Regions from separate parts of the Homo sapiens genome. Here region 1 is linked to region 2. The links come from fine-mapping of genetic effects on gene expression. A gene starts in region 2. The other region holds a variant in brackets. All regions are shown on one strand. Distances are from middle to middle.

What was found. PIP is the estimated chance that this variant, and not a neighbour inherited with it, causes the effect.
Region 1: its variant is the best candidate, but not a certain one, in a credible set for the expression of RASL10A in whole blood (TOPMed, PIP 0.69).

Annotation. Positions count from the first base shown.
Region 1 is chr22:29,286,937-29,292,243 of GRCh38, forward strand. EWSR1 (EWS RNA binding protein 1) reads left to right here. Exons shown (of 17, transcript NM_005243.4): 7 at 1-198; 8 at 1,670-1,850; 9 at 4,626-4,663; 10 at 5,201-5,233. Among named protein-coding and RNA genes, the nearest start is that of GAS2L1, 17 kb to the right of the region's middle. The variant T/A (reference allele first, on the strand shown) is at 2,829.
Region 2 is chr22:29,313,569-29,318,939 of GRCh38, forward strand. RASL10A (RAS like family 10 member A) reads right to left here and starts at 2,129. Exons shown (of 3, transcript NM_006477.5): 1 at 1,460-2,129; 2 at 295-419. The coding sequence starts at 1,678. RefSeq lists enhancers at 516-1,320, 1,321-2,125.

The DNA of each region.
Region 1 (5,307 bases), 27 kb before region 2:
AGCCGACTAGTTATGATCAGAGCAGTTACTCTCAGCAGAACACCTATGGGCAACCGAGCAGCTATGGACAGCAGAGTAGCTATGGTCAACAAAGCAGCTATGGGCAGCAGCCTCCCACTAGTTACCCACCCCAAACTGGATCCTACAGCCAAGCTCCAAGTCAATATAGCCAACAGAGCAGCAGCTACGGGCAGCAGAGTGAGTTGCTAAGAGAGAAAACCAAATAAGAATGAATGTGTTTAGAGTTTTTTTGTGGGGTTGATTTTTTTTGTTGGTTTGTTTTTCTTTTGAGATGGAGTTTCACTCTTGGGGCTGAGGCTGGAGTACAGTGGTGCCATCTCAGCTCACTGCAGCCTCCGCCTCCTGGTTCAAGCAATTCTCCTGCCCCAGCCTCCCGAGTAGCTGAGATGATAGGCGCCTGCCACTATGCCCAGCTATTTTTTGTATTTTTCGTAGAGACGGGGTTTCACCATGTTGGTCAGGCTGGTCTCGAACTCCTGACCTCAGGTGATCCTCCCGCCTCAGCCACCCAGAGTGTTGGGATTACAGTCATGAGCCACTGCGCCCAGCCACGTTTGGAGTTTTTGAACAGGGGGAATACTCTTTGCCATTGTTTGCTTTTGGAATCCAGGACACATCTTTAGGGCATGGCATTCCAGCTAACATCTTGGATGCCCCAGTGAAGATTTCAGTGCTTTTTTCCAATTTGTTTTTAGTATGCCTTGGCAAAAAAGAAAAGAGATACTAATTGATCAGAAAAAATGTTTTAGACTGCTAGCCCTGCTGTCTTTGGGGAAGTTGTATGCAGTGAGTAAATTCAACATCGTTTTTGGCCTCCCTATCAGTCATTAATGTAAAGTGGGGAGGCAGCTATTGCAGGCCACTATGATTTTGATAGTCAAGTAAAAGCTATGTTTTTTTGTTGCTGTTTGTTTATATCCATTAAGGGGAAAAATGGCCAGGCATGGTGGCTCACACCTGTAATCCCAGCACTTTGGGGGAGGCCAAGGCAGGAGGATCACTTGAGACCAGGAGTTTGAGACCACCCTGGGCAACATAGTGAGACCCTGTCTTTTTAAAGATAAATAAAGATTCTTTAAGAAAATAGAAAAGGAAAGGGGGAAAAATAATCCTCCTCACAGAATATTTGCAGTTCTTCTGTATGGAGAGAGGTAACCAAAACACATAATTATCTTCAGAATTTAGGATCATTGCTCTTTTTAAATTACATTCTATCCACGGGGATTTCTCAACAACTCAAAGGAGTAGTGTTGATTTATGGAGCTCAGCCCCTAGCAGTGTGCTAAAGCCCTAAGAAACCTGGCTCTGTTTTCATTTCTTGAGTTTAGCTCAAAAGAAGCTGCTTTTGGAGACATCTTAGGATATAGAACCCTATAAACTATATGTTAGCCAGAGGGCTTTTTTTGTTGTTGTTATTTAGAAGAGGTTTATTATAGGCTAACTATATAAGGTTATTTCAGCTGTGATGATCCAGCAGTTTTGTTGAACTTAAAAGAGCCTACCTATTAAGGATGCTTTATCGTGATGTAAAGAAGATGGTGCCTTGGTTAGTGCCTTGGAATTGAGGATTTTGTGATTCCAGGAGAAAGTACATCAGGCAGTGGTGTAAATGCTGGTCCATGGCTTACAGATGTGACTCTTTCCTCAGGTTCATTCCGACAGGACCACCCCAGTAGCATGGGTGTTTATGGGCAGGAGTCTGGAGGATTTTCCGGACCAGGAGAGAACCGGAGCATGAGTGGCCCTGATAACCGGGGCAGGGGAAGAGGGGGATTTGATCGTGGAGGCATGAGCAGAGGTGGGCGGGGAGGAGGACGCGGTGGAATGGGGTAAGAGCAAACCTTTTCTCCTTTTACCTAATTTTGTTTCATCCATAGGATTTTCAGTGGAAAGAAGGGACTGAAAGACATAAGAAATTAATTTCTGCATTTCCATGGACAATCTGTTGAGCTCAAGCCATCTTCTAAAACATGGAAATGTCATCTTTGTGGCATATATTAAGTGGCAGTTTATTTTCTTTCCCTGCCAGTATACTTCGTTGGGTCGGGGAGAACAAAGAATGGTTTTGAAACCAGAGCTTTCAGTTCCCTTCATGGTTTCCAGAGGTGAGAAGCCTCTGTGGGTAGTAGATTTGGGATGGAACACACACAACCCTTCTAATGACCCTAAGTTGTTAACTAACTGCCTTTGAATGGTTGTCTTGAAATACCTGGTGTATATACTGCAGAAAAGGAATGCAGCTGTTTTCCACAGTGTTTGTCCCCAACTTCTGTTTGTACTCAGAATCGTTGAACATATGAAGATTTTGGTCCCATAATCCTTAAACTATAGCCTGAGGTGCACCTGATTACATAGAGTTTGGATGGAGCAAAGAAAAATCCAATAGCATTTTGCAGAGTAATGTATATAATTATGGGCTCACTTCCTACTGGAGATGTTGAAAGTCTAAATCGGTTTGACCATTTTGATTGATGGCACAATCTGGTTTAGAAAACTTTGTTTAGATCAATGACATAACCCTGCTGCCTCTGCCTGCCCTTCCCCTCCCTTCTCCCATCCCCTTTTCCCTATCTGGTGTCTGTACTTTGATGAAGGTGAGCTATAATATTGGTGGTTAACATAATCCAGAAGGCTTAGTTCTGTGTGTGTTCTGTCCCTATATAAACTGGTAAAGAAAAAAAAAAGTTATGCAGAATGTTAGATATTTACATTTGATACGGTGTGCCACTATTCAAGGAAAAATTAAATAGCATTTTTTAAAAAACAGAATGAACTTCAAAATTAAAGTTGATTTTTAACTTCCATAT[T/A]AGCAAATACTCTTCACTACTGAAAGACAGTACTATTTTGCATATTCTGCATAACTTTAAGAAAGTCTTTAGTGAAATCTTTATTGGAAGAAAGTCATTTGACAACAGGCAAAAATTTAATGATTCGGTATGAAGTAAAATCAATCTTCTGATTTGGAAAATACTCTATTATAAAGGTTTCACTTCTTTTTGGATGTTTTAAAATAGACATAGACACTTGAAAGTACTATCATCACGTCTCAAATCACCTAGAATTCCTAGTATTTTTAAATTGCAAATACAATTTCAAGTTTATTTAAATACTCCAGAAGTTATAATCCTACTAATTGTGCTAGACTTTGCTAGTAGAGGGGGCCCCTCTTTCTGGATGAGAAGTCTCTCTTGCAGCCATAGAAGAGACCATGGCTTTCCCCATAGGTTTTTCAACAGACTGTGAAGCAGTCTGTCGGATCCTGTGGGGATAGACGGGCATTTCCCTCGTTGCCCCCCTTTTTATTGTGGTGTGGTGATGGTTTTCAGTGTCTTGTACAGGTAAGGCACTCAATGTTGTTAACATGCCCTTTTTCATTGCCTCAGTATTTTGATATTTTCATTGGCTGTTAAACGTGGAAACTTTTTAACATGCTTTGTCGCATTTATATGCTACAGGTTACAAAGTGAGAGCCTTGTATACACTTCAATACTTAAAAAGTACCCGTACTCAGTACTCAGCCGGCAGCATAATGAAAAGTGGGACTAGACACGGTGTCCATATGGAGAGGAAAAATATACATAGAATATTTTTAACAAAATGTATTCATTGTATAAATGGAATCCTTCTGTAACTTTGGTAACTGCATACTTGTTGTTTGGTAATGAACCAGAGGAGGTATAATACTCTAGAATTGTGTAACATTAAAGTGTAAACTTTTGTGTTTAAAGAGAGAGAACATTTTATGGTGTGTACTTTTAAAAAGGAAACAAAGCTGCATGCAACAGCTTGAAATTGTATATTCAGGTATTAAAGGTGCAATACTGGTTAGAAAAAACTCAGGGCCTCCCACTGGGGAGCTGCCTTTATTTAATTTTAAAGAAAACAAAATCTAACCCAAAAAGTCCAATTCATATTTCCCTCTCCCCTCTTTAAGTAATTTTACATGGCCATAGTCATTATTCTAACTGATATGTCTATAAAGTTGCACCCCCAGTCCGTTGAGCCTTGGTATTTGTTGTAAATTCTCCTTTCACAGCGATTGTTAAATCTATTCGTGCCCTGAGATGTATGGCTTTATGCTGAAGATTGGCTGGATGCGTCCTCTGATGTGTGTTGTAGGAATTTAATGTGGTTGTCTCCTGCTTTTATTATACTGTGACTTGTTAGGAAACCCTGGGCCTCATTTGGCTCTCCCTTGGGAGAGGTTGAGGGTGCACCTTTATGAACATGGAAAGGTTTATCACAGCAGTTAACCCCCACTTGCTCCTCCCCTCTATACCAAGCTCTTCTGGTTTTTCACCTGACGGGGTGGGTGTTTGGGATCTATTTTTTCTTGCTAATTTGCCAAGTATTGCACTATTAATACCAGCCCCCGAAATGAAAGGAACCAACCACACTGGTGTGTACAATCAGACAAGCAAGGTTGTATATTGAGGAAATTTGAGCAAGCTGCCCTGAAGAAAGGCATAGTGACAAGATGAGAGAGATGCATTGTTTGGAGATGTGTTTAGCCAGTGCCCTTCTTCCCCACGAGCCCCCCCAAGGCTCAGAGCGGTACTGGCTTTTAAAGGGAAAGGCCTTCATTTCTTCGTTTATCCCCCCAGCAGCGCTGGAGAGCGAGGTGGCTTCAATAAGCCTGGTGGTAAGTTTTTGAGTATTACCATAGATAGTGTTTAAAAAAAAATGCAGTCAGTTTTTAGAAAACTATAATTTTTTTATTAGTTTCATAAGTGGTTTAAAAATGATCTATACAAAAGAGACTAATGGGTACTGCCGGCATTGTCTTAGGGGTTAATAAGGTTAACCTATGGTTACAAAACAAAGGGTAACTTGAAGTATTGAGTAACTGCTTCTGTAATATGGGGGAGAATAAATTTTTAAATTTGGTTTATTTAGAGGAAAAATTTTGACTTAAATTTAACACTGATTTGGCACATAAGCATTGAGAGTGTATTTGGTTAATGGTTTAGAAGCAAACCAGCAAAGGAAAAAAGCAAACCCTAGCAAACCTTTCACAAATGTTAAAGAGACACTGCTCCATTTTAGCAGTGCGGGTCATTTTGAGTTTAATGAATCCCCATCAAATGGTGGTATAGTAGATAGCTATGTGTGTTTGTAAGGTTTGTAGCTTGCAAGACGTGCACTAATAATATTTTATATGATCTTTCCTGGTTGGCAGGACCCATGGATGAAGGACCAGATCTTGATCTAGGTAATTTTGAATTCTAGTTGTGCTTCATATCGTGCTTTGTAAATTAATGGTACAGAGGTAAATGCATGCGTAGA
Region 2 (5,371 bases):
CTGGGGGCCGAATGGAGATGAGAGACGCGGGGACCCCACGGCCGGAGAATTCCCCCAGTGGGTATACACACGCAGGCGCATTCCCTTCCTACGGCCAGAGACACCGCCCCCCCCGCCGCCCCAACGAAACCCCAGGCCCATGTGGGCCAAAGAGCACATACAGCTTAAGACCTTCCCACGGGCGAAGGCCTAAGACCCGGCCCACGACGTTGGGAGACCCTACACACTCTCCTCAGGCAAAGGCCCTGCCAGACCTGTCCTAGCTCCCCACCGCCAGAACTGCCGGGCCCCTACCTGGTCTCCGCGATGCGCTGCCGCAGGGCCTTCACGTAGTCGAAACTGTCCGGGCTGCAGATGTCGTAGACGAGCACGAAGGCGTCCGTGTCCTGCAAGCTCCAGTCCTTAGCGTCTGGCCACTCCTGGGGACAGGAGGCCAGGGTTTGCGGAAGCCTCCTTTCCACTCTTCCGCTCTCGAACCCTCTGCAGGGGCCTGGACGCTAATCCTCAGGCCAACATCACCCCCATACAGACCTCTGTGCCCCTCCCCCAAGCTTTCCGGGCCGTCTCCTCATGACCACCAGGGTAAAATTTTCCAAATCGTGCCTGGAGCCTGTCAGCCAGCCTCCTTCATCCTTGGTCTCCCCTCTGTTTACCCCGAATCTTCCTCTTTTCAGCTTTCCCCAACTCGGCTCAGGCCGCTCTCCTCCCTAGATGCTCTCGGTGCTTACCACGGCCTCTAAGACTAATTCCAAAGCCCTTGGCCCGAGTCCCGTGGTCCACCACGCCCCCAGATTGTCAGCTGTAACCGTTTATGACCGTAGCGTAAGCACCTGCTGGTCTTTCCACCTGGTATGTTTTTGCCACTTCCTTTACTCAGAACTTCACTCGGTCTTCCAGGTTCAGCTCAAATGCCACTCCCTCCAGGAAGCCCTGCTTAATCCTGCCTGCTCTTTCCTCTTCACTGCTCTAGGGTCGGAGGTCTGTCCTTTACTTTGCACAAATTACTAAACGAGTCTTCGCTCCAGGGGACAAAAATGATAGGGCAGAGAATGAACCCCTCCACCAGCCCCCGTAGAAAGTACACCCCTGCTCCTGACCCCAGTCTCTCCCATTGTAGCTCTGCTCAAGGCCCCAAACACAAAACGCCACACTCTCGGGAAGGCACCGTTATGCACCACCAAGAGCTGCTCCACACCCCCAGCCGAGGCAGGCAAAGGTGGAGGCGCTCACAGGAGCAAGGGAACGCCCCTGGGCAAAATCGCCCGGCCTCCAGCCTGGGCTTGGGCGTCTCCAGGTCGGCGGGAAGGGCTGAAACGCAAGTATCCCAGGACGCACACACATCCCTCCATCCCGGAGCACAGCCAGGCGCCCGAGGCCTCCACGCGGACACGCACGTGTGCACCGAGCACGCACACCCCTCACACTGTCACACGCCCCTGCCCGCTCCTCGAGCCGCTACCTCCGGACCCCCGGGGCTCGAGCCGGGGCCAGCGACGTCGCCGTCGCGGATGCTCAAGTCGTAGACGGCGCCGTCGAGCAGCACCGCGGGTCGGTAGAGGCGCGGCCCGTCCGTGGGCCGGTGGCGCTCGGGGTAGTCACCGAACAGGAACTGGCGGATGATGGCCGTCTTGCCCACGCCCGGGGCGCCTAGAACGGCCACCCGCAGGCTACCCCCCATGGCCGGCCGGCGCTGTCGCTCCCCGCGCTGGAAAGCCTCATGGGCCGGCGCCGCACCGTGCGCCCCCAGGCCGTGCGCCCCGCGCGCCCTGCCCGGTGCGCCACGGCCCCGTCGCGCTTCTCGTCGCCCCTCGGAGCACCGAGACCGGAGAGGGCAGGCCCGAGGCAGGAGCTGGCGGCGGGAGGGCAGACAGACAGCCGAGTGGGCAGACAGGTGGCGGGCGCGCGAGCGGCTCGGGCGGGTGCCGAAGCTCGAGAGAGAGCAGAGCCGGAGCGGCGCTCAGACACCGCCTCCGCCCCGCAGCGCCAACCCAGGCGCCGGCGGACGCGCGAGGCGCCGAAGTCCGCCCCTCTCGCGGCGCGGGTCCCGCAGCGGTGCGGGGCGCGGGGGGCAGCGCTGCCTCCCGGAGCCTCTGTGCCTCTATCCTTCTCTCGCTTCCGCGCCTGGAGTCGCCGCCCCAGCCGCCGGCGCGAGCGAGCGGGGCCTCCCGGAGGCGGCGATGAGGTAACCGCCCGCCCCTCCCACCTTCCCCCACCGCCCAGGACGCCCCTCCCAGGAAGGGTCGCAGGAAGGTGACTGGGGGACAGAGATCCCGGAGAGGGCCTACCCCTTCCTTACCTCCTCCGCGTGTCCCGCTCCTCTCACCCGCTCCAAAATAGAAGCCCCTTCCCACCCACTGCCGCGGCCGCTCTTCCAAACACTGCTCGCCCCCACGCTGGCTCCCGACAAGCCCCGGCCCCCGGAGTCAGGCCGCCCGGGGTCCGAATTGGGGGGGGCGGCTGTGTGACCTTGGGCGAATCGCCGCACTGCGCTGGGTCTGCGCTCCGCATCCATCACAGGCAGACTCCTCAAGAGGCTCCAACCTTTTCTTGAGAGCCTACTATGTGCCAGGCCCATTACCTACGTGATTCTCGAACCTACAGCCTCAGCCTGGCATCGCTGGTTGAGAGAAGAGGAAACAGGCCCGAGAGGGGAATCTGCAAGGTTAGAAGGGCAGTGGGGGGGCCCTTGAAGTCTCCTTTGAAGTCCCTCCTACCTTCCTCCTGCCCACGGGGGTAAATGGCCCACACTAGACAATATTCAAACAGCCGTCCTCGAGGGGAAGTGGGGACAGAGGGTGCCGAGACCACAGCAGCTTAGCCCCAGATCCCTGTCCCAGCAAGGCTGGAGGTGACTAAATAAAGATCCAGAAATTGGCCCACTCCACCTCCATCACTACTAAGGTCACCTTTCCTGCGTGAGTTGCAACCCGTAGCGCCCCTCAAAGGGATGCAACCTCCAAAACAGGCGCCCAGAGCCCAAGTTCCCCCTCCCTCGAGCTAGTGGAGAAGCTCCTGCCCCATCACAGCTTGGAAAGCCTGGGTTAGCCCAGCCCCCCCATCCTCCGCCTCTGCTCTCCTCCCCGCTGTGTGGGGGCTCCCACGTCTCTGACCTGCACATGGCAATGCTCAAGAAATGGCGGCAATGCTCAAGAAATGGCCGCAATGCACAGATCTCTGCACTGACTAAGGAGTTCATTTATTTATCCCCTCAACAAATATTCCAAATCTTATTGCTTGTCAGGAGGCTGAGATAGATTTAAAAAACAGAAAACAGGAAAAAAAAAAAAAGTTCTGCTTTGGGAGAGAAGGTTCTAGAACACATGGGATCTAGGGACTGTCAAAGCACAGACAATGTGCCCACACCAGCCCAGGGGAAGTAGAGGAGCTAAATCCTGAAGGGGGAGGAGGCACATCCTCCAGGGAGCCTGTATAATGACAACCAGAAAGTGTCTCCAGAACAATGGCTGTGCTTTCATCCTCCCATGCTAGATCGGGGGCTGGGGTCCGCTTTCACTCCTCTCCTCAGCCACTAGGAAGCTCAGAACCACCTCTGTCTAGTGTTCCAGGTCTTCTAGCTCAGTGAGTGGGGACTGCTGGCTTCATCTTTCTTTCCTACCATGATTTTTCCCTTCACTTGATGTCCTCTTTCACGTTGTAACTTTTCAGACTTCTGGGTTTTGTTGTTTGAGACAAGGTCTTGCTCTGTCACCCAAGCTGGAGTGCAGTGGTGTGATCTTAGCTCACTGCATCCTCAACCTCCTGGGTTCAAGTGATCCTCCTTGCCTCAGTCTCTCAAATAGCTGGGACTGCAGGTGTGTACTACGACATCCAGCTGATTTATTTTTATTTTTTGTAGAGGTGGAATCTCACTATGTTGCCCAGGCTGGTCTTGAACTCCTGGCTTAAGCAATCCTCCCTCCTCAGCCTCCAAAAGTGCGAGGATTACAGGCGTGAGCCACCACATCTGGCCAAACTTCTGGGTTTTTGACTTTTCAGGCTTCTGGGTTTTGTGAGCTGCTTCAATTCCTTCGGGGAACAAGGCAAGGAGTAAATAACAAGGCACTCAGCAACACAACAACAAAACCCAGAAGTCTGAAAAGCTGACACCAGGACGGTCTTTTGTTTGTTTGTTTTGAGATGGAGTCTCGGTCTGTCACCCAGGCTGGAGTGCAGTGGTGCGATCTTGGCTCACTGCAACCTCCACCTCCTGGGTTCAAGCAATTCTCCTGTCTCAGCCTCTAGAGTAGCTGGGACTACAGGCACATGCCACCATGCCCGGCTAATTTTTGTGTTTTTTAGTAGAGACGGGGTTTCACCATATTGGTCAGGCTGGTCTCGAACTGCTGACCTCAGGTGATCCACCCGCCTCAGCCTCCCAAAGTGCTGGGGTTTCAGGCATGAGCCACTGCGCCCGGCCAGGACGGTCTTTTTTAAGGTGTTCTCAATGCTAGGCGCACTCCCGCCCACCCCTGGGTATTCTTTCTCTGAAAAACTTTCCTTGCTTCTCCTTCCGACACTGCAAACAGAGCTGTGTGTGAGGCGTCTCTGGCTCCCAGTATGTGTTTTTGGATGGCGAGGGGAAGGGGCACTGTGGACTGGGAACGTCCTGAGGCTCCCATGAAGCCCTGCAAACGTGCCATGTTCCCTAGGAGACTCTCACAGCAGCGTTCCTAGCAGCAGTGCCCATTTATCAAGGGCCTGCGATGTGCCAAGCCTGACCCACAGCCTCATGCTCACTAAGGCTCCCTGGGACGCCATGATTGGGCCACAGTTGCCTAGCAGGAAAATGGCAGCACAGGGGCCGGAACCCAGGCCCTTGGGCTCCAGAGCCTGGCTGAGAAGCCTGGCTTCATCTGGACCCAGAGGGTTCTCAGGAAGTACTCAACTGAAGCTCAGCCCCCAGTGACCACTCAGCCCCCTGTCGGGAGGGACTTGGGGAGGCCTCTAGGTCCCGTGGAGCCCCCCATCCACAGGGGCTGAAATGAGCTCTAATGGGAGTGTGCAGCCCTGTGCCAGGCTTCCTAAAGACCAGCAGGCTGGGGGGCTGAAGCTGCCTGTCTGCCTGGGATGTGGATTTCAGGGTTCTCTCATCAGTCCCCTCATTCCTTCCCCAAGGAAAGGCTGTAGGCCTCCTGCCTGCTGCCCCCCTCCAATCCCTATTCCCCAGGGGCCTCCTGGGCACTCCTTGAATGCCCCTATCCAGGGCTCCAGGGACCACCTGCCAACTATGCATGCATCTTCTCCTTCAGCAGAGGGGACTGGCACTAGGCACACAGTGGCCAAGGTGGTCCTGCCTACCCTCTGTGGCAGGGAGAAAGAGACAGACATGCAGCTAGGCAGGGACGGGTGAAGACAGGAGCTCTGGGCTGGT